Regions from separate parts of the Homo sapiens genome. Here all the other regions are linked to region 2. Evidence: fine-mapped expression QTL. A gene starts in region 2. Each other region holds a variant in brackets. All regions are shown on one strand. Distances are from middle to middle. Region 1 overlaps DEPTOR (DEP domain containing MTOR interacting protein). Region 2 holds the start of DEPTOR (DEP domain containing MTOR interacting protein). Region 3 overlaps DEPTOR (DEP domain containing MTOR interacting protein).

Region 1 (7,329 bases), 180 kb before region 2:
CCTCCAACCAATCTGCTCACTAACCACAAAGGTGTGTGGAGTCCCAACTGGCACCCATGGAGCAGTGGTGGATCACGCCAGCAGAGCTCTGCCCAGACTGCCAGAGCATAGGATTATAAGCAAATAAAGGGTGTTGCTATAAGCCGTGATTTGAGGTGGGTTTTTATTTTTATTTTTTTTTAAGCCATGATTTGAGATGGGTTTTTATTTTTATTTTTTTTGAGACAGAGTCTCACTCTGTCGCCCAGGCTGGAGTGAAGTGGCACAATCTCGGCTCACTGCAGCCTCTGCCTCCTGGGTTCAAGCAATTCTCCCACCTCAGCCTCCCAAGTAGCTGGAATTACGGGCGTGCACCACCACGCCCAGCTAATTTTTTGTGTTTTTAGTAGAGACGGGGTTTCACCCTGTTGGCCAGGCTGGTCTCAAATTCCTGACCTCAAGTGATCCACCCGCTTCGGCTTCCCAAAGTGCTGGGATTATAGGCGTGAGCCACTGTGCCTGGCCAGGTTTTTATTTTTTATTTACTTATTTATTTTTTTGAGTTGGAGTCTCGCTCTGTTGCCCAGGCTGGAGTGCAATGGCACTATCTTGGCTCACTGCAGCCTCCACCTTGTAAGTTCAAGCGATTCTCCCACCTCAGCCTCCCAAGTAGCTGGGATTACAGGTGCTTGCCACCACATCCAGCTAATTTTTCTATTTTTTAATAGAGACATGGTTTCACCATGTTGACCAGGCTGGTCTTGACCTCCTGGACTCAAGTGATCCGCCTGCCTCAGCCTCCCAAAGTGCTGGGATTACAGGCATGAGCCACTGCACCCCACCCTTGAGGTGGGTTTTTAGACAACAATAGAGAGCTGACACACTACTCTGTGGCAGGAATTGTGCCAGGTGAAGAAAATACCCTGGATACTAAGACATAGCCCCTGTTCTGCAGATGCTTAGAGTCTACTTAGGCAAACAGACATGTAACAGGGGAATTTCAAAGTAAATGTCATCAGTGCTCTAACGGGGCATAGGGAGGACTTAAGGATCCATGTAAATTTAGAGAAGAGGCATCAATCCTAGAACTGGGGAGCTGGTGAAGGCTTCTCAGAGGAGATAATTTCTAAAGGGAGTTTACATGAAGAAAGAATTTTCCAGGCAACAGTAAGACAGAACATTCTTCTTTCCACGAAGAAGAAAGTACATGTGCAAGGGCTGGAGGGAGTGAGATAGGGTCCCCAGGAAGGTAGGGGTAGTCTTTTTAATTGCTGTGTAAAGATGTCAGGGGTGGGCTGGAGGAGTAGCTAAGGGAAAGCTCTCATGGCCTTTGGCTTTTGAACTTAGGGTGATGGGAACCAAAGAAGGAAATCCTCTCTCCCTTCTTTCCTTCCTTCCTCACAGCCAAGAGGAGATCGTGTGCAATAGATACAGAGAAATGCTTCTCTGGTGCTTAGGTTGGCTGAAGGGAAGTTCTATTATGCCAGGGTCCAAGATAATGGGTAAAGCAGGCAAGAAGAAGATACCATTTCTCAAAAGGAGATACCATTTCTCGAAAGGTATTCCTTCTTCTTTTGTCACTTAATGAATACCTGAGCACAGAAAGCATTTAAGACTCATCTTTTAAAGATGCTATAAAAAATTTTTTTAAGCCAGTGGTAAGGTTTCCCACTTTATTAGTTTTGTGGCCTTGGGCATATGACTAACCACTTTACAAGTCAGTTTCCTCATTTGTAAAATGGAGATAATGACCGTATTGACTTCACAGGTAAATAAGGACAAATGGCGTAAAGTCTTAGCATACAGCCTGGCTCAGAATAAACCCTCAATATAAGGTCCTTAAATGGGGAAAAGTTGAGGGGAGTAACATGGGATTTAGCGTTAAACCTGTGTTTACATTCAGCCTATTTCACCTAGTAGTTCCTGCAGCCGTGTGAATTTAGAGACCATTTTAAAACTTGCTCAGGCTTAGTTTCCACATCTGAAAAATGTGGACGTTAATATCTACCTTGCAAGGTTGCATTGAGGGTTAAAGGATATCATATATATTAAATGCACAGAGCCTGCCATACAGTACAAATGCACACCCACACAGAGGTGATAGTATTTCTCAAATGTATATCAACAGTATTACTGTTAGACATTCTCTGTCACTCCAAAATCCTATTCTCTGACTAAAGCTACAAATCAGAAAAGTTGGATTACCAGAAATATATATATATATATATATATATATATATATGTCTATAACATATTTAGCACGGTAGGTCCATTCCACCAGTACCTATACATTACGATAACCTAATGAAAAGAAATGGCTGTGGTACAATTCTCATATTTTATTTTGTTAATGCATGATAAAAAATTAACGTCATCATTCAGATCCATTATTTGGAATGAAGAATTTAGTATTTCCTGACTGCCTAATTTGGCACTTTGAGGAATTTCCTCTGCACGCTGAGCCCCAAAATGCACTATTTTCTAGACCAAAAATGAAAACGTGCGTATATACAAGTGAGCTGAAAAGTTACAACACAAGATGATCATTTTGGTGAAAAATAATCCCCCCAAATAAGCAGCATGTCATGTCCTTAGAATATGTTACACTAGAAAGCTAGTAAAAATTCAGGCTAAGGAGGCAATTTAGAGTTCAAGTTTTATCACATATCAGCAAAGTTTTAGCCTTCCCTTAAAAACAGACACCTTCAAAGTGAAATCTTGCCAGAAGGGTTGATTTTTAATTATGTGTATATACAAACTTCTCTATTTTAACATTCAACATATTCAGGATTAATTCTAGAAAGATGCTATAGCTGATTTATAAAACAAAATGATTTAGGATCAGAAAGAAAATAGGGGCACACAATTTCATGTAGTCTCTCCCTAACTACCCCCAACCATAGCATCACAAGGTTTTTTTTTTTCCTAATGCCACAATTGAAACCTGTATTAACTTAAAAGTTGACACTAAAGGCAGGAATTAAGAAGTCATTTTTTATGGCTTTTAAGCACTTGAATGCTTTAGAACCCCCTTGAAAATGCTAGTGAACAGGTCTTATTCCTTTAAATGTTGCTTTGATTTGAATCTTGGTGAAATCTAGATTCCCTATTAAATAGCTGCATGCTAATTTTGGAGAAAGTACAATTTAAAACCTTTAACAACTACTCTATTGACTCTGAAGAAGGGGACTTTAGCATGTCGCTGTTTGGGCTAGAGAAGCATTTCAACACCTTTCTGCAAACTAAGATAAAAAACAATGAATGAGAGCTACAAATAGAAATCTAGTAAGGCAGTTCTATCATGTAGGAAAATGGTTTCCCAAATGTTTTCTACACTGACATTTTTTAAAAAAGATATGATACCCGGTTCTTCCACATTCAGTGTATAAAACTCAACTTTAGACATGTATGTGCGGAGAAGACTCGTATGTCCAAAACCATCCATTTGCATGGCAATCTTGTCTTTGCATTGCTTTGTGTCATTCTGGCTTCCCTCACCCACAGGCCACTGGAGGGCTGGGAGGCCCAGGAGCTCAGCACTCTAACTCCTCCATGACTTCCATGACAATCGTCCGTGGGCCCGTCAGAATCAGATTG[C/T]TCACGGTCCGGTAGTCTACATGCAGGACATTGAGCCCGTTGACAGAGACGACAAACTGACAGACCTAAAGGAAAGATGCAAAGAAAGAGCATCTATTATAGCGCCTGGTTTTGCACAAAGCTTTAATAAAGACAGTGTGTAGCCCTAACAGGTAACTTCATTCTTAAAATATCCAAATGTATCCAGCTGACGACTCCAATTCAATAATTTCCAAGGAGCTACACATTTTCTGGAAGGCAGTATAATTTAAAAAAAAAAAAATCGTTTTAGTGTTTTACAAAATTTGGCTTAAATCCTAACTCAGAGACATACTAGCTTTAGCTAGTATTTAAATACTAGCTAGGTATTTAAATTTCTGAGCTTTATTTCCCTCAACCCTAAAATAAGAATTAATAATAATAATAAGAGTAATACCTACCTTATAAGACTGTTGTAAGAATTAATGACATATATAGTTTCTACTTGCAGTAATTCACAGGCATGCTTGCTCCCAATTATTAATTATTAGTGTTGAGGACTCAACCAAAGAATGTAAAAAATACCAAAACACCTTGGGAACCATCATTTCCTTTTATTGTTTTCTGTGTGGGTAATATCGATGTAAACTTAAACATGATATTAAGTCCAAAAATATCTATACTTATTACTTAGATACAACAAAATTGGAGAGTACTGGGAAGAGTATTGGAAAGCTCTGTCACTGTGGAAAAGATGAGGGGACTTAGAATCAAAGATACAGATTTAAGTTATAGGTCCCTTTGGTGGAATACATTAATCAAGTAATTTCTCCTCTTCTATGTTTCAACGATATAAATGCCTCACTTGTACAACAGGTAAAAACGCCTATTCTCACAGGCTCACACTAGATAGTGCATTTGAAACCTCTTTGCAAACACCAAGCACTACACCGATGCTGAGTACTATTAATCTCTTTCCTTTCAAAAAATACCCACTTCTTTCACGGTCACAGGCAAAACAAAATGGAAAGCGGGCAGTAGTACACAGACTGCTTATTTACTCAATAAACACTCGCTGTTGTCATAAACCTTGATACTTTGCACTCCCCAACCTACTAGGGTGTTTTCTCCACATAAGATCACACTATTACTGTTTCTCTTTTCTTGGTTCCACAAATTTGTCTTCATGGATTCAGGGTACATCTTATACAAAATCAGCAGTTTTCAACCATGGTGGAGGTCACAGTCATAATCAAGGTCACACAAACAGGTCACAATCTATCCTGAACTAGGCCACAGTAATTTGCAAGACAATTTAGCAGTAATTTGCAATTTAGCAGGCATCAGCCTGGGCTTTGTTTTTTTCTGCTGCAGCAGACTCATGAGCCAAAGAATGAGAAGAATTTCACCTCCTTCCCAACCCAGAGCTTTAGACCCTAGACTTGGAAATTTCAAATCCCTTGTCTTTTCCACAGATACAGGGGTTTCTTTTTCCAAAAAGATGAATAGCCTTTTTGCACTGCCAAATAAGAGGGCAGGAGTTGCCAGGTGAGTGCCCTCTCCAGCTGACCCTTCGCAGGCTCCCTGAGATTAGCCATGTCTCCGCATCGCTCAGGGATCACATTTCACCATTTACTTTTTTTTTTTTTTGACATGGAGTCTCCCTCTGTTGCCCAGGCTGGAGTGCTGTGGCACGATCTCCTCCATCTCCCAGGCTCAAGCGATCCTCCCACCTCAGCCTCCCGAGTAGCTGGGATTACAGGTGTGTGCCACCATGCCCAGCTAATTTTTTGTATTTTTGGTAGAGAGGGGGTTCGCCATGTTGGCCAGTCTGGTCTTGAACTCTTGACCTCCGGTGATCCTCCCACCTTGGCCTCCCAAAGTGCTGGGATTATAGGTGTGAGCCACCACACTTGGCCTCAGCATTTAGTCTTAACCACAATTGTGTGTCCTCTGTCACACATCATGTTTGTTTTAATTGACCAGCATTTAAAATTTAGAAAATCTGCCAGGCACAGTAGCTCATGCCTGTAATCCCAGCACTTTGGGAGGCCGAGGCAGGTGGATCACTTGAGGTGGATCAGCCTGGCGGGTGGATCAGCCTGGTCAACATGGTGAAACCCCGTCTCTACTAAAAATACAAAAAAATTAGCTGGGCGTGGTGGCGGATGCCTGTAATCCCAGCTACTTGGAAAGCTGAGGCAGAAGAATCACTTGAACCCGGGAGGTGGAGGTTGTAGTGAGCCGAGATCACACCATTGCACTCCAGCCTGGGCAACAACAGTGAAACTCCATTTCAAAAAATAAAAGTAAAAAATAAAATAAAATTTGGAAAATCTTTGCATAAAAATCCAGACTCTGGGCTGGGTGCAGTGGCTCACATCTGTAATCCCAGCACTTTGGGAGGCCGAAGCGGGCAGATCACCTGAGGCCAGAAGTTCAAGACCAGCCTGGCCAACATGGTGAAACCCCATCTCTACTAAAAATACAAAAATTAGCCAGGTGTAGTGGCACACCTGTAATCCCAGCTACTCAGGAGCCTGGGGCAGGAGAATTGCTTGAACCTGGGAGGCAGAGGTTGCAGTGGGCCGAGATTCTGCCACTGCACTCTAGCCTGGGCAACAAAGCAAGACTCTGTCTCAAAATAAATAAATAAATAAAAACCCAGACTCTGGCTTCTCTGGGACAATCAGAAGCTGTGATCATACCAGGTGTAGATGGCCATGTGGCCATGGCTGAGTAGAGCCTGCCTGTTCTACACATGGCATGGACACTCATTTGCCACAGTCCTTACGGCTTCCTATCTTCCTAACACCTGGCTGACAGGCATGTGAGTTTGTGGTCCCTGATCTATGGCCACCAGAGGGAAAAGCGTTGAAGACAGGGTGGCTTGAAGCTTCAAGAACTGAAGGACCCCAATGTTTGTCAACAGATGAAAGGAGGTTGGGCGTGGTGGCACATGCCTGTAATCCTAACACTTTGGGAGGCTGAGGCAGAAGGATTGCTTGAGCCAGCCTGGACAACATAGTGAGACTCCGTCTCTACAAAATATATATATCTATATATTTAAAAAATTTAAAAAGACAGATGAAAGGAGAAATATAATTCAGTATATCCATACAGTGGAATATTATTCGGCCATAAAATGGAACATACAACATGCTACAACATGGGTGAGCCCTGAAAACATTATGCTAAGTAAAAGATGCCAGTCAGAATAGACCATAGAGTGTAAGAGCCCATTTATATGAAATGTCCAGAGTAGGCAAATCCACAGAGACAGCAAGTAGATTATTGATTACTTAGGGTTGGGAGCAGGGGTGGTGGGGTGGGGCATGGAAGTGGTTGGTAATGGGTACGGGGTTTCTTTTAGGGGTGATAAAAATGCTCTAAAATTGTTGTAATAGTGACATAAATCTGTGAATATATTAAAAACTACTGAATTCTACAGTTTACATGGATAAATTGCATGGTATGTGAACTATATCTCCATAAAGCTCTTAGTTAAGTAATGAAACAAAACAAAACAATAAACATTGAAGGGAAGAGGGCCCTGATGCTAACAGTGGGTAGATTCTTGGTCTACAAGGATCTCCCTTCTGTCTAGAAGGGAGAGGCTGGTTTGGTTCAAGATGGGGTCCTGTGCACCTCTTGATTGCAGAGCTCTTGGAGGCCTCAGAAGCTAGGATGGTCAAGGCTGTATGTGTGGGAGGATGAGCACCTGGTGAACTCTGCACAGGACCTTTACCCAGGTGTTCAGGGGTAGGAAAAGGGCAGTCAGCAGGGCTGTCTGGC
Region 2 (7,329 bases):
TTGTGCTTCAAGAAAAATAAATTTAAAAAATAGAAAATAGGGCGTGCCTGTAATCCCAGCTACTTGGGACGTTGAGGCAGGAGAATCTCTTGAACCCGGAGGCAGAGGTTGCGGTGAGCCGAGATCGCGCCATTGCACTCCAGCCTGGGCAACAAGAGTGAAACTCCATCTCAAAAAACAAAACACAAACAAAAAAAGAAGCGTCAGGATTGTGGAGCCAGCCCCCAATTTCACATCTGGAGGTTACAATAGTCATAACAACACTCTTCTTGCTTTATCGATTTATTTTACAAAGTTTCTTCCCATGCTGTACCCTATTTGATCCACTACCACAAATCTTATGTGGGAAGATATTATTCCCATTCTGTAGGGAAGGATGCTTAGGACTAGAGAGGTTAAGTGACTTGCTCAAGAGGGCATAGCTACAATTAAAGAAAGAAAAAGAAATTGATAGAACTGGGCCTAGAGGCTAAATTTTTTATTTCAAATCCCAGTCCTTGGTTTCCTCTTATCACCTCTACCTCATCTCTGATGACCCAGAAAGTAATGCAAAGTGAGAGAAAGCAGAGGGGAACTGAGAGTGTGTGAAGCACTTAGAGGCAGGAGGCCTGGACATTGCAAAGCACTTACAATCCTGCAGTGAGAGGGGAGCTACAGACAGAAGAACTCTTTGTGAAAGTGACAAGAATGACTGAACTTCCAACCCTCCAATAACTAGGAAACCAGGCATACGACCGCTTTAATTCCTAAATTCTGACTATTATACTGCTCTGTACTAACAGAAGTATATTGAATACTTACGATATTCATTTAACTACTTACTGAGTAGTTACTATGTGCTAGTTACAGTGCCAAAACAGTTGAGATAAAAAACAGCAATGATTAAAATTTTCCAAAGTAGAATTAAGTGGCTAACATTTCCTAAGCCTTTTACATGTAGCATCTCATTTAATCCTCACAGAGCTCCTGAAGAAGTGTCATCAGAATAACATTTCGTAGAAGAGGAAACTGAGACACAGAGAGGCTAAACATATTGTCCTAAAGTTACAGAATAAATGGTGGAGGCAGAATAAGAACCCAGGCAGCCTAGTTCTATATCCTGCGCTCTTCACCACCACCCAATCCTTCCTGCCCAATCTTGCTTGGCTGGAAGTCACATGCAGTGATGCAGAGAGACCAATAATACTAATTAATTCCAGGAACTATTTGTTGAATGCTCATTAATACATGAAGCCCAGGGGCAAATTCTCGCAACTCCATGAAATACATTCATCTTCATTGTCTTTTTCAAATGTGGAAACAGAGACTCAGAGAAGTGAATTTACTTGTCCAAGGTCACAGAACTCTACCTTAGCTAATGTTGACCTGGTGCTTACTACATATCTATCAGAAACTACCCTAAGCGCAACTCATCTAATCCTCATAGTAACACTATGAGGTAAATTCCATTATTACCCATCCTTCTTCTTCTTTTTTTTTTTTTGAGATGGAGGCTCACTCTGTTGCCCAGGCTGGAGTGCAGTGGCACTGTCTTGGCTCACTGCAACCTCTGCCTCCCAGGTTCAAGCAATCCTCTCACCTCAGCCTCCCAAGTAGCTAGGATTACAAGCATGCACCACCACACCCGGCTAATTCTTGTATTTTTAGTAGAGATGAGGTTTCACCATGTTGGTCAGGCTGGTCTTGAACTCCAGACCTCAAGGGATCCGCCTGCCTTGGTCTCCCAAAGGGCCAGGATTACGGGCATAATCACTTGTCCAAGGTCCCACACTAGTAAGTAGCAAAGCCAAGATTCAGTCTAGCTTAAAGTCTTCCTTGAAACAACTTAATGCTGACACTTGCCTACATAATGGTGGAGCAGTCATTCAAACCCAGGTCTAATTCCTGCATGACAAGGATGGCTCTCAAAACTGCTGCAGTGCAGAGAGGCGCTAGAAAAGTGGGGAATAACAAGTGCTCTGGGGACTGCAAGGAAGAGGCATTTAAACTGCATCTTGAAGGAAAAAGTACTTGCTGGACAAAAAGAGCCATCATGCAATTTAATATTTGTAAAATAAATGAAAAATAAGTAACCCTATCCAACAGAAGACTTTTAAAAAGATGGCCCAGTAATGAAGAGCAGAGAAATTAAACTTTCTTTCCCACAGTAGGCTTTAAAGGGACTGAAGCCTGTTATCACTCGCCTGCTACAGCTTGGGCTTCTAAAGCCTACAAACTCTCCTTACAATTCCCCCATTTTACCTGTCCCAAAACTGGACAAGTCTTACAGGTTAGTTCAGGTTCTGCACCTTATCAACCAAATTGTTTTGCCTATCCACCCTGTGGTGCCAAACCTGTACACTCTTTTGTCCTCAATACCTTCCTCCACAACTCACTATTCCATTCTTGATCTTAAAGATGCCTTTTTCACTATTCCCCTGCACCCCTCGTCCCAGCCTCTCTTTGCTTTTACCTGGACTGACCCTGACACCCATCAGTCCCAGCAGCTTACCTGGGCTGTACTGCCGCAAGTCTTCAGGAACAGCCCTCATTACTTCAGCCAAGCCCTTTCTCATGATTTACTTTCTTTCTACCCCTCTGCTTCTCACCTTATTCAATATATTGATGACCTTCTACTTTGTAGCCTCTCCTTTGAATCTTCTCAGCAAGACACCCTCCTGCTCCTTCAACATTTATTCTCCAAGGGATATCAGGTCTCTTCTTCCTTACTCTACTCTTTACAACAGGGCTTTATGAAGTCACCCCCGCCTTCTTGGACTGCACCTCACAAACTTACACCACTATCCATCATCTACCCAACTCCTATAAAACAACCCCTTCCCCATCTCCCTTTGCTGACTCCGTTTTTAGACTCAGTCCACCTGCACCCAGGTGATTAAAAAGCTTTATTGCTCACACAAAACTTGTTCGGTGGTCTCTTCACACGGGCACCGCGTGACAGGTTTCATTAGAAAGTACTTTTGATGAAGGAAAAAAAGTTTTTATTCCCTTTAATTCTGACCACGTATTTTTAAAAATCAACAAAGAATCGATAGGTGCAATTTGCCTTTTGTAACATTAAAAATCAGTTAATTCTGACTTCCAATATTGGTCTCCTTCAGAGACCTTTGCAAGACACTCTTTCAGGTCCTGAAACACAGACATTTAGAAACCAAAACAAGCTGGGGAATTCAGGCTAAGAACTAGAAGTAACAGGGGCCCGCGTACAAGTTGTGGCTCAAACGCTGCAGAGCTGGGTTTTCTTTTTCCTGGCAAACTGATTTATAACCACACGAAGGGCAGCTGCAGAACCAGTTAGACCATAAGTACTATTCCCAAACAGCCCTAGAGGAAGGACCATACAGGGATGGGAATGGCAAGGGGGATTCTGGGGGTCGTCCTTGTTCCCAAGTTCCGTGAGACGCCGCAAGTCTTAATTCTTGCAGGAGCCAGGGTCCCCATGGATCCTGCTGCCCAAAACGTGCGAGCCCGGGGAGTTGGCACAGCCTCAAGGCAGCCCGACAAGGTGCCTCCACGCCCCCTTGCGGACCCAAATGATTGAGGACGATGTGCCAATTAACTGATAGGTGCAGGGTTTCAGAAATGCTCTCTCAGTTTAACCTCACAAAAAGCCCTTGAATCAGCCCTGTTTTACAGATGTAAAACACCGAGGCTCAGGGGAGTGAAGGAAGACTTGTCAGCAAAAAGGAAAACCTAGTGAAGACTATCGTTGGTCTTGCTCCTTTTATCAAGGAGTAGAGGGGCTGGGGTCGCCTCGGGACCCCACAGCGACCCCTCTTGCTCTCTTCGCGGATGAGGCGCAGGCTGTCAGCCGGGAGGCCTGGCGGCGTCCAGGTACACGGGAAGACGGACAGCGCGGTGGGTGGCAGGGACTTTGCCCGGCACAGGACTGCAGCAGCCAGGCTAGGGCGCAGCGCGCACCACCCGCTCGTCGGCTTCTGCCAGGCAGCCCCGCTTGGCGAGCGAGTCCTCAGGGACCGAGGCTGCAGCAGCTAAGCGCGGGCGCACCGAGGACCATCCACGCGCCCGCAGCCGTTCCGGCGCCCCACGCGAGTCGCAAGCCACGAGCCAGGGAGCGCGTGCGCGCAGGACTGCAGCGGGCACGCGTTGGCAGTGCCATCGTGAGCTCACCCGCTGTGTCTCTTGCCTTACCGTAGCTGTTCCCCGGTGACCAAGACCTCAGCCATGCGCTCCAGCTCCCTTTGCTGCGCCCCGCCACTCCCGCTGGTGCTGCTGTCACTGCCAGCACTGCCAGTGCTGCCGCCCTCCTCCATGGTTTTAGGGCCGTGCGGCTACCACTGGCTCCGCTGTCCGCCGAGGGTTTGGGTGCTCGGATCAGTCTGCCCTCACAGACGCTTCCCGCGCCATCTTTGTTCGGGGCAGCTCCGCTGCTCTGACTGGATTGGCTGGAGAGGGAATCCCTATGGGTAGGCAGACGCGCTGGGCTAGTCCGGCCCCAGAAACTTGAGCTTGGGGGCGTGGCTAGAGCCCCTCATGGTCGGGGGGCGGGGCCGATGGAGGAAAATATAAACATCTGGGCGGGGCGCTGCTACTGAGCTGTGTGTGCTGCTGGAGGCTGAATTTGGTGAGCTCTCTTTACCCACAAAGCTCATGCTGTAGAATCCTGGGGACAGGCCTGGAGGTTATTAGTGTGAAGGCGTTTTTATTGTACGTTCCACACCCCAAGTTGCCAGAGAGCAAAACATAATTCAACAATCTGGCCAAATGGTCAACAGTGAAGGTTATACATGTCATTGAAGGGCATGGAGAAATTAAACATTCTTCTCTCCCCAACCTCTCTCTCCAAAGACGACTTGTTTGCCTTATGTTGTAATCAATAAGGAACGCCGGCCTAGGAATCAGGCTGACCTGGGATCCAGCTCCGCTCCTGTGATGTCCTATTTAAATGTGTTTAATCCTCCCTTACAAAATAAAAATAATTGCGGCTACCACTTTTGACATCTGCTGCATTAAAGATACTTCAGGTATGGTATTACCTCGTTTAATTATTACAATAATTCATAAAATAGGTATTGGTGTTCGTTTTGCATTAGAATGCAGGCTTGGAGAGGTGAAGTTACTTGTCTAAGGCAAGCAAATAATAAGTATAAGAAGAGCCGGGCACCGTGGCTCATGCCTGTAATCCCAGCACTTTGGGAGGCCGAGGCGGGCAGATCACCTGAGGTCAGGAGTTCCAGACCAGCCTGACCAACATGAAGAAACCCCGTCTCTACTAAAAATACAAAATTAGCCGGGCGTGGTGGTGCATGCCTGTAATCCTAGCTACTTCGGAGGCTGAGGCAGGAGAATCGCTCGAACCCGGGAGGCGGAGGTTGCTGTAAGCCGAGTTCGGGTGAGCGGAGTTAGTGCCATTGCATTCCAGCCTGGGCAACAAGAGCGAGACTCCGTCTCAAATCATCATAATAATAATAAGAAGAAATCTAACCGAGGCAATTCTGGCTTCAAAGTTATGCTTTGAAAAGACTGAAAGACTGCCTCTTAAAATGGGGATACAATGGTATTGTCTATCCGTAAAAGATTATGAAAAGAAATTTGATTAGTACCAAATAAATGTTCTGATTTTCTGTTTCATGCAGAGTCGGAGTTGGTCTGCAGGAAGGCGAAGTAATGTTTATGGCAGTATTCATGTGTGTTGAGCATTTATTCTGTGCTTTACATTGTGCCAAACACTTTATCCTCACAAAACCCTGGAGTTTGGTATTATTTTCAACTTACAAATGAGAAAGCTTAAGTATAGAAAGATGAAGTAATCTGCCTAGAAAGTTAGGTAGCCCTTAAACCCTGGCCATACTCAGCCCCACTCCAGAAAGAGAATAGTTGCCCAACTCCCTTGAACATCCGGGAGCAGACCAGCTCTGAATCTGCATGAGACAGATGTTAGGTGACTCTTTTGCCAAAAGAAATTATTTAAGTTTCTTAATTTTTTAAATAGGCCACAATAGACATGTAGACCAAGGCAGACATAGTTCTAGGTGACTGTGATTCTAAGAGCCTTATTCTGCATAAAATACATAAATCATTCAACAGAAGTCCCAGAGTTAATGAGATTAAAAGGTGTCTGTTGCTCATGTTTTAATCTTATAACTACTAAATAGAATATCAAGAGTTTGCACGGGCTTCTCAGTCAAACATGCAATTTCTATCTCAATTCTGTCGTTTGCTAATTTTGCAACCTTATGCTAGTTATTTCTCTTGGCCTCCCTTTCCTATCGATAAAACAGGAATAATAATTTCTACTTCATAGGGATGTTGCGTGGCTTAAATGAAATAATGTAATCCCAGTTCTTTGGGAAGTTAGGGTGGGAGGACTGCTTGAGGCCAAGAGTTCAATGCCAGCCTGGGCAACATAGCAAGACCCTGTCTCTACAAAAAAAAAACAAAATTAATTACCCAGGTATGGTTGTGCATACCTGTAGTCTCAGCTACTTGAGAGGCTGAGGTGGAAGGATCACTTGAGCCCAGGAATTCAAGGTTACAGTGAGCTATGATTGCACCACCGCACTCCAGTGTGTGTATCAGAGCAAGACCCTGACACTTAAAAAAAAGAAAAAATAAATAACATTAAAATTTCTATTATGTAAAGTTTCCAAGATCCATGTCAGTAACACAAATTTGTAACTTTAAGATAAAAAAGCACCTTAACATAAAGAAAAGAAAAGAAAATTCGAGTTAGGAAAATACCTGATGCTATTGTTCCAGTGACAGTGAGAGAGCATGATTTATTTTTCTTGCCTGATAAGAGGTGTGTGTAGGGGGCGGTGTGTGTATAGGTAGGTATATTTGAACAGGAAATGGGAACTGGTTTGCTGTTATTGTTTTAACCTTTTGACATATGACACACACCATGCTCCACTGGGTAAGAAGACAGATCCTTTTTCCTAACTTAGGGAAAAATTGGTGAGCCACATCCTGAGGACATGTCCATGACTGTGAGCCCAGGAGCAACTGGTTCCAGATAAACTGTAATTTTTTAGATATTGATCAAGGAGAAAAGGGCACTCATATGGCAACTAATTCAGCATAAATATTTCAGAAAAACAGAATTCTGACAAACCTTGGTTTGATTCTTGGCCATGTTTGGGCAAGCTCCTTATCGTCTCTGAATTTGCTGTCCCTCTTTTGTAAAATTTAGATAATAACACCAATCTCATTGGGTTATTGGGAGGATTAAATAAAATTTACTGAAAGCACTTATTACAGGTGGGAACTATTAAGTGTGAGCTTTCTCTTCTAGCTCTCCACACTTTTCTCTTCTAGCTCTCCACACTTACCTCTTTCATGCCTTCTGTCTGTTTTGGTGCTTTGGGG
Region 3 (7,329 bases), 83 kb before region 2:
TGGGAGCCACTTTTCTTTTATTCGACCTTGTTTTTCTCAAGACTATAATGGTATCCTTACCCAGCTCTTGTGAAAATCATGAGTGTGAATGAAACAACTTTGTAATAAGAAATAATGTACAGTGTACATAAAGTGTTATGCTATGTAAGTAATCATTGTACCTACATTGGGGCAAGATGAATTTCTGCCTTCATAGCTATGAACTGATGAAAATGGAGATTCCTTTAAGGTCCCTTCTCTCTTCCTAGAAGAATGATTAGAGTTCTATTTGAAATCCATGGAAGGGACTCAGGATTAGAAATTAGGTGCCTGGGACCCAAACACAGCTCTGCTACAAACTAGTCATGTACCTTCTCACTGTCTCCCAAACTCATATTAAATGAGGAAGATAATACCTGTTCCACTTCCTTCACTAAATTGTTGTTATCATCAAAAATCTTGGGGGCAAGTGAAGTTCTAAGTATATGAATGTATACTGTTTTTTTGTTTTTTGTTTTTTGTTTTTTTTTTTGAGAGGGAGTCTTGCCCTGTTACCCAGGCTGGAGTGCAGTGGCATGATCTTGGCTCTCTGCAACCTCTGCCTTGCAGCTTCAAGCAATTCTCCTGCCTCAGCCTCCTGAGTTGCTGGGATTACAGGCGTGTGCCACCATGTCTAATTTTTGTATCTTTAGTAGAAATGAGGTTTCACCATGTTGGCTAGGCTGGTCTCGAACTTCTGACCTCGTGATCTGCCCACCTCAGCCTCCCAAAGTGCTGGGATTACGGGTGTGAGCCACTGCGCCTGGCCCATGAATGTACACCCTTATTAAGAGTATAAGAGTATACAAGGTATAAGCATCTAATAGAACTCATTAAAGACCTTCTCATTCAGCATGTAACAGAAGTCATTTAAAAATCTTATTTAGAGGCCAAGCACAGAGGCTCACACCTGTAATCCCAGCATTTTGAGGCCAAGGAGGGTGGATTACTTGAGGTCATGAGTTTAAGACCAGCCTGGCCAACACAGTGAAACCCCATCTCTACTAAAAATACAAAAATTGGTTGGGTGTGGTGGTGCATGCCTGTAATCCCAGCTACTGTGGTGGGAGGCTGAGGCAGGAGAATCACTTGAACCTGGCAGGCAGAGGTTGCAGTGAACCGAGATCGCACCACTGTACTCCAGCCTGGGTGACAGAGCAAGACTCCGTTTCAAAAAAAAAAAAAGATTATTTAGATATTTTCCCAAATCAAACCTCTTCTGCACTTTAATCCATGCTTAGAAATAGCCAACAGGTGGCCGGGCGCAGTGGCTCATGCCTGTAATCCCAGCACTTTGGGAGGCCGAGGCAGGTGGATCACAAGGTCAGGAAATCGAGACCATCCTGGCTAACACGGTGAAACCCTGTCTCTACTAAATTTACAAAAATTAGCTGGGCGTGGTGGTGGGCGCCTGTAGTCCCATCTGCTGAGGAGGCTGAGGCAGGAGAATGGCGTGAGCCCGGGAGGCGGAGCTTGCAGTGAGCCGAGATGGCGCCACTTCCCTCCAGCCTGGGTGACAGAGCGAGATTCTGTCTCAAAAAAAAAAAAAAAAAAAAAAGAAAGAAAGAAAGAAAAAGAAATAGCCAACAGGCAACAGGCTTCTTTCCCAAAGTTAGTAACAGCAGAGTTGGTATAAGCGATATGAATTTTATTTAATATAATAATGGACAACCCCTTCTTAGAAGGTGGTAAGGACAACTGTCACACGTATGTCAACACAAGTGACAGAAACATAAAAACACTCTCTAGGAAACTGTATGCAAAGATGGACACAGTAGTTCCTCATGTGTCTTCCAGTGTGACTTCATTGCTTCTCCCATCCAGATGCTGAGTCCATTTCTATTTCCCTTGAACTTGGGCTAGCTTTGTGACTTGCTCTGACCAACGGGATGCAGTGAAAGTGAGGTTATTCTTCTTCTTTTTCTTTTTTTCTTTGAGATAGAGTCTCGATCTGTCACCCAGGCTGGAGTACGGTGACGTGATCTCGGCTCACTGCAACCTCTGCCTCCCGGGTTCATGCTATTCCCCTGCCTCAGCCTCCTGAGCAGCTGGGATTACAGGTGCATGCCACCACACCTGGCTAATTTTTGTATTTTTAGTAGAGATGGGATTTTACCGTGTTGTTCAGGCTGGTCTCAAACTCCTGACCTCAAGTGATTCACCCTCGGCCTCCCAAAGTGCTGGGATTACAGGTGTGAGCCACCATGCCCGGCCACGTTATGCAACTTCTAAGGTGATAAACTTGGCCTAGCTTTGTGACTGGCTTTGACCAACAGGATGCAATGAAAGTGACATTATGCAACTTCTAAGGTGAGGCTTTAAGAGGCCTTACAACTTCCACCTTTGCCCCTTGGAATGCCCTCCTGAAATCACCATGAAAGGGGGCAGGTCTAGCTTATTAGAGGGGAAGAGGCCACAGGAGGAGGACCAGGTTGTCCAAGCAACAGCAAGCACCAGCTCTCAGACATGTGAATGAGGGCATCCTGGACCTTCCAGCCCAGCTGACCCTTCAGCAAGCAGATGAATGTGCCCACATGAAACCAATAGAGTAACCACCACGCAAACCATGTAATCAGAAGAAATAACACATCATTGTTGTTTTAGACTGCTAAATCTTAGTATGACTTGTTTTGTAGGAATAGATAGCTGGAACACATTTGTATGAATAAGCAGTGGCAAAGATACATGAAACCACACACACTGAGGCATGTTACATAGCTCGGAAAGTCACAACAGAATGATGGATGAACACTGAAGTTCCAGGGAATAAACTGAATAGAATAAAGCCACATGGAATGATGACAAGAATCTAGAAAAGAAAATAGAGGCCGGGAGCAGGGGCTCACGCCTGTAAAATCCCAGCACTTTGGGAGGCCAAGGTGGGCGAATCACTTGAGGTCAGGAGTTCAAGACCATCCTGGCCAACATGGTGAAACCCTGTCTTTACTAAAAATACAAAAATTAGCCGGGCATGGTGGCGCGTGCCTATAATTCCAGCTACATGGGAGGCTGAGGCAGGAGCATCGCTTGAACCCAGGAGGCGGAGGTTGCAGTGAGCCAAGATTGCACCATTGCACTCCAGCCTGGGCGACAGAGCAAGACTCTGTCTGAAAAAAAAAAAAGAAAGAAAGAAAGAAAAAAAAAATAGAAGGACCCATGTGCATGCCCAGGCAAGAAATACCACCATTCCTTCATTTCTTTTGACCCTCAAATAAGCTGTCTTGGAGGACAAAATGGAAGAAAAACTAGCGTCCTCAGTTTTCTGGTTTTA[G/C]ATATCACTTTCTCTAAGAAATCTGCAATTCCTACAAATCTGGACCATGTACCATTTCTAAGGTCCCTCTCGAAGCCTAGGGGAATTACTTGCTCACTTGATTAGAAGCTTTTTGAGACCAGAGTCCCTGTCTATGTGGTTCACAGTTTTTTCCTAGCACAGTAGGTTTTCAAAAAGCTAAGTGAATAAATTAAATTTAATTATATGCATTCTCCTGCTATACATCATTATCCAAGTATATACTAAAAACAACCCCAAGCTGGGTGCAGTTGCTCACTCCCACCTGCAATCCCAGCACTTTGGGAGGCTAAGGCAGGAAGATCCCTTGAGCCCAGGAGTTCAAAGTTGCAGTGAGCTATGATTGTGCCACTGCACTCCAGCCTGGATGACACAGCAAGACCCTGTCTCTGGCCAGGGACAGTGAATCATGCCTGTAATCCCAGCACTTTGGGAGGCCAAGGCAGGTAGATCACCTGAGATCAGGAGTTCAAGATCAGCCTGACCAACAGGGTGAAACCCCGTCTCTACTAAAAACACAAAAAAATTAGCTGGGTGTGGTGGTGGGTGCCTATAATCCCAGCTGCTTGGGAGGCTGAGGCAGGAGAATCACTTGAACCCAGGAGGCAGACGTTACAGTGAGCTGAGATTGTGACATTGCACTTCAGCCTGGGTGACAGAATGAGACTTCATCTAAAAAAAAAAAAACAAAAAAAAAAAACAAAAAACCCTGTCTCTTAAAAAAAAAAAAAAAAAAGGAGACCTGTGTGGAGATAATCAAGAGACTTTGGCACTATTGATAGTCTCCATTTAAGACACAGACACAGACTCCTGGCCTTTATCCCTGGTTCTGACCACTCTGTCCCTTCCAGTTCAGTGAATTTCCTTTCAGGGAATGGGGAGGGCCAGTGGATGGGGTTAACTTGTGTCATTTCTTGTAACTAGAAACATGACCTGCCAGCCCTCTAGAGCTCCTACTAAGTATCTGGTGGCCTCTGGACAAGTGACTGGTTAGCTGCTTCTGCCAGTGTGAGCTTTAGGACTGAGGCCAGCTGGCATGCCTGCCTGGATTGGATCAACTTGCCATTTACAACATGCTCCACCAGCCTTAGCGCTTCCTTATTTCACTTCCCCTTATAATCAACTAATGTCCCCATCCAGGTTCTTATTTTGAAGACCACGCCTTTCGTGGGATTTTATTTTAGGATTAATATGTAGTCGCAATGTTAAAGCAAGAGTTTGACTTACTACTTGTTGCAATTATTTTTGCCATATGACAAGCTACTCCCAAACTTGGTGGCTTAAAATAACCATCATTTAATTATATGTTAGTATTGTATGCATTGTCTGGGGTTCACCTGGGCAGCTCCTCTATGACTCTAGCTTGGGATCACTCACAATTACATGCAGATGATGGCCAGAAGTGGATCGTTGGCTCTGCGGTACCCCTCAAAATAGCCTCTCTCCAGTAAGGAAGTCTGGACCTGGTGATGCGGGGCTCAAGAAAGAGGAAGCAGATGCTGCCAAGATGAGTTCTTCTCCTTCTCTTCTCCCGCACCCTCCCCTTCCTTCTTCTTCCAGCTTTACTCAGAGATAATTCACATACCATACAATTAACCTATTTAACACGTACAATTCAGTGGTTTTTAATATATACCTCATGCCTTATATAAAAATTATGTCAGCAGGGTGCAGTGGCTCACACCTGTAATCCCAGCACTTTGGGAGGCCAAGGTGGGTGGATCACCTGAGGTCAAGAGTTCGAGACCAACCTGACCAACATGGAGAAACCCCGTCTCTACCCAAAATACAAAATTAGCTGGGCGTGGTGGCACATGCCTGTAATCCCAGCTACTTGGGAGGCTGAGGCAGGAGAATCGCTTGAACTCAGGAGGGAGAGGTTGCGGTGAGCCAAGATCACACCATTGCACTCCAGCCTGGGCAATAACAGCGAAACTTTGACTCAAAAAAAAAAAGAAAGGAAAAAAATTATGTCAAAATGGATTATGGAACTAAACATTAAGAGCTAAAATTATAAAACTCCTATGTTTGAAAGAAAACGTAAGTAGCAAGTTTCCATAGGCTTGGATTAGGCATGTTTTCTTAGATAGGAGGCCAAAAGCACAAGCAACATAACAGAGAAATAGACAAATTGGACTATTTCAAAATTAAAAACTTTTGTGCTACAAACAATACCATCAAGAACAGAATGGGAGAAAATATTTGCAAAGACTATGTCTAATAACAGATTTGCATCCAGAACATAATAACTCTTAAAATTCAATCATAGAGGCCGGGTGCAGTGGCTCATGCCTGTAATCCCAGCACTTTGGGAGGCCGAGGTGGTTAGATCACCTCAGGTTGGAAGTTCAAGACCATCCTGGCCAACATGGCAAATCCCTGTCTCTACTAAAAATACAAAATTAGCCAAGTGTGGTGGCGGGCACCTGTAATCCCAGCTACTCAAGAGGCTGAGGCAGGAGAATCGCTTGAACCCAGGAGACGGAGGTTCCAGTGAGCCAAGATTGTGCCACTGCACTCCAGTCTGGGCAACAGAGCAAGACTGTCTCAAAACACACACACACACACACACACACACACACCAATATTTGCCTGCTGCAAGCACTCACCAGGTTTTGCTTGTGCATGTGAGCTGATTTCCACCTTTCCTGGATCTATATCTGACTCAGATTTCCCAGACCCGTATTAACCTAGAGGGAAGGCAGCACTACAATAGAAGGAACTACTACATTTAGGGGCCAGTACAAGAATAGAAATAAGCTGATAGCGATCTCCTTGTACACTGGGAAAAAAAATTCAAAAGAGCTGAGGAGGCCCTGTGTAACCTGGGAATAGATGTGAATGATGTACAGGAGCAAAAGCCAGGGAGGGAGACAAAATGGCCTGTGGGGCTTAGGTCAAAAAGATGCTTCAGAATTTAGAAAGAGAGCTTTAAAAAACAAGTCATGTGTTAATATGATCAATTATTTTTAAAAGCAAAACAGACTGGGCATGCTGGCTCACACCTTAATCCCAGCAGTTTGGGAGGCCAAGGTGGGAGGATTACTTGAGCCCAGGAATTCAAGACCAACCTGGGCAATATGGCAAAACCCCATCTCAACAAAAAATACCAAAAGATTAGTTGGGTGTAGTGGCACATGCCTGTAGTCTTAGCTGCTCAGGAGGCTGAGGTGGGAGGATCACTTGAGCCCAGGAGTTTGAGGCTGCAGTGAGCTGTGATTGCACCACTGTGCTCCAGTCTGGATGACAGAGTGAGACCCTGTCTCCAAAAAAAAAAAAAAAGTTAATTATTCATTCACCCAAATATTAAAACCATTACCTTGGCCAGGCATGGTGGCTCACGCCTGTAATCACAGCACTTTGGGAGGCCAAGGCGGGTGGATCACCTGAGGTCAGGATCTTGAGACCAGCCTGGCCAACATGTTGAAACCCCATCTCTACTAAAAATACAAAAAATTAGCCGGGCGTGGTGGTGGGCACCTGTAATCTCAGATACTCGGGAGGTTGAGGCAGGAGAATTGCTTGAACTGGGGAGGTGGAGGTTGCAGTGAGCCAAGATCGTGCCACTGAACTCCAGCCTGGGTGACAGAGTGAGAATCTGTCTTAAGAAAAAAAAAAAAAAAAAAGAAGCTATCTGACCTATCTTGTTTGACTGTAGGTCATAAGACCCCCATTCCAGAGAGGGTCTTACCCCACACTCAGAAGGAATGCATGCTCAGAAAGGCCAAGAAGAATCTAGATAGACGGGCTTTACTGGGTTTCCCCACTGAGTCTATTAACCGTAGATCATACCCTTTTTGTCCAATCATATTTCTTTCTTTCTTTTTTTTTTTTTTTGAGACAGAGTCTTGCTCTGTCACCCAGGCTGGAGTGCAGTGGCACAATCTTGGCTTACTGCAACCTCCACCTCCTGGATTCAAGTGATTAAGTGATTCTCATGCCTCAGCCTCCCAAGTAGCTAGGATTATAGGCGTGTGCCACCATGCCCAGCTAATTTTTGTATTTTCAGTAGAGACGGGGTT

Evidence for each region. PIP is the estimated chance that this variant, and not a neighbour inherited with it, causes the effect. A credible set is the group of variants that fine-mapping cannot tell apart.
Region 1: its variant is the best candidate, but not a certain one, in a credible set for the expression of DEPTOR in whole blood (INTERVAL, PIP 0.78).
Region 3: its variant is the best candidate, but not a certain one, in a credible set for the expression of DEPTOR in whole blood (TOPMed, PIP 0.87).

Annotation. Positions count from the first base shown.
Region 1 is chr8:120,045,888-120,053,216 of GRCh38, reverse strand. DEPTOR (DEP domain containing MTOR interacting protein) reads right to left here. Exons shown (of 9, transcript NM_022783.4): 9 at 2,299-3,641. The coding sequence ends at 3,513. Among named protein-coding and RNA genes, the nearest start is that of COL14A1, 76 kb to the left of the region's middle. RefSeq lists enhancers at 3,892-4,751, 4,752-5,611. The variant C/T (reference allele first, on the strand shown) is at 3,577.
Region 2 is chr8:119,870,792-119,878,120 of GRCh38, reverse strand. DEPTOR (DEP domain containing MTOR interacting protein) reads right to left here and starts at 4,399. Exons shown (of 9, transcript NM_022783.4): 1 at 4,153-4,399. The coding sequence starts at 4,274. RefSeq lists enhancers at 3,662-3,711, 3,802-3,901, 3,536-4,036, 4,102-4,361, 4,037-4,537 and 1 more and a silencer at 4,381-4,553.
Region 3 is chr8:119,953,406-119,960,734 of GRCh38, reverse strand. The region is part of intron 3 of DEPTOR (DEP domain containing MTOR interacting protein); the gene reads right to left. Among named protein-coding and RNA genes, the nearest start is that of DEPTOR, 83 kb to the right of the region's middle. The variant G/C (reference allele first, on the strand shown) is at 3,290.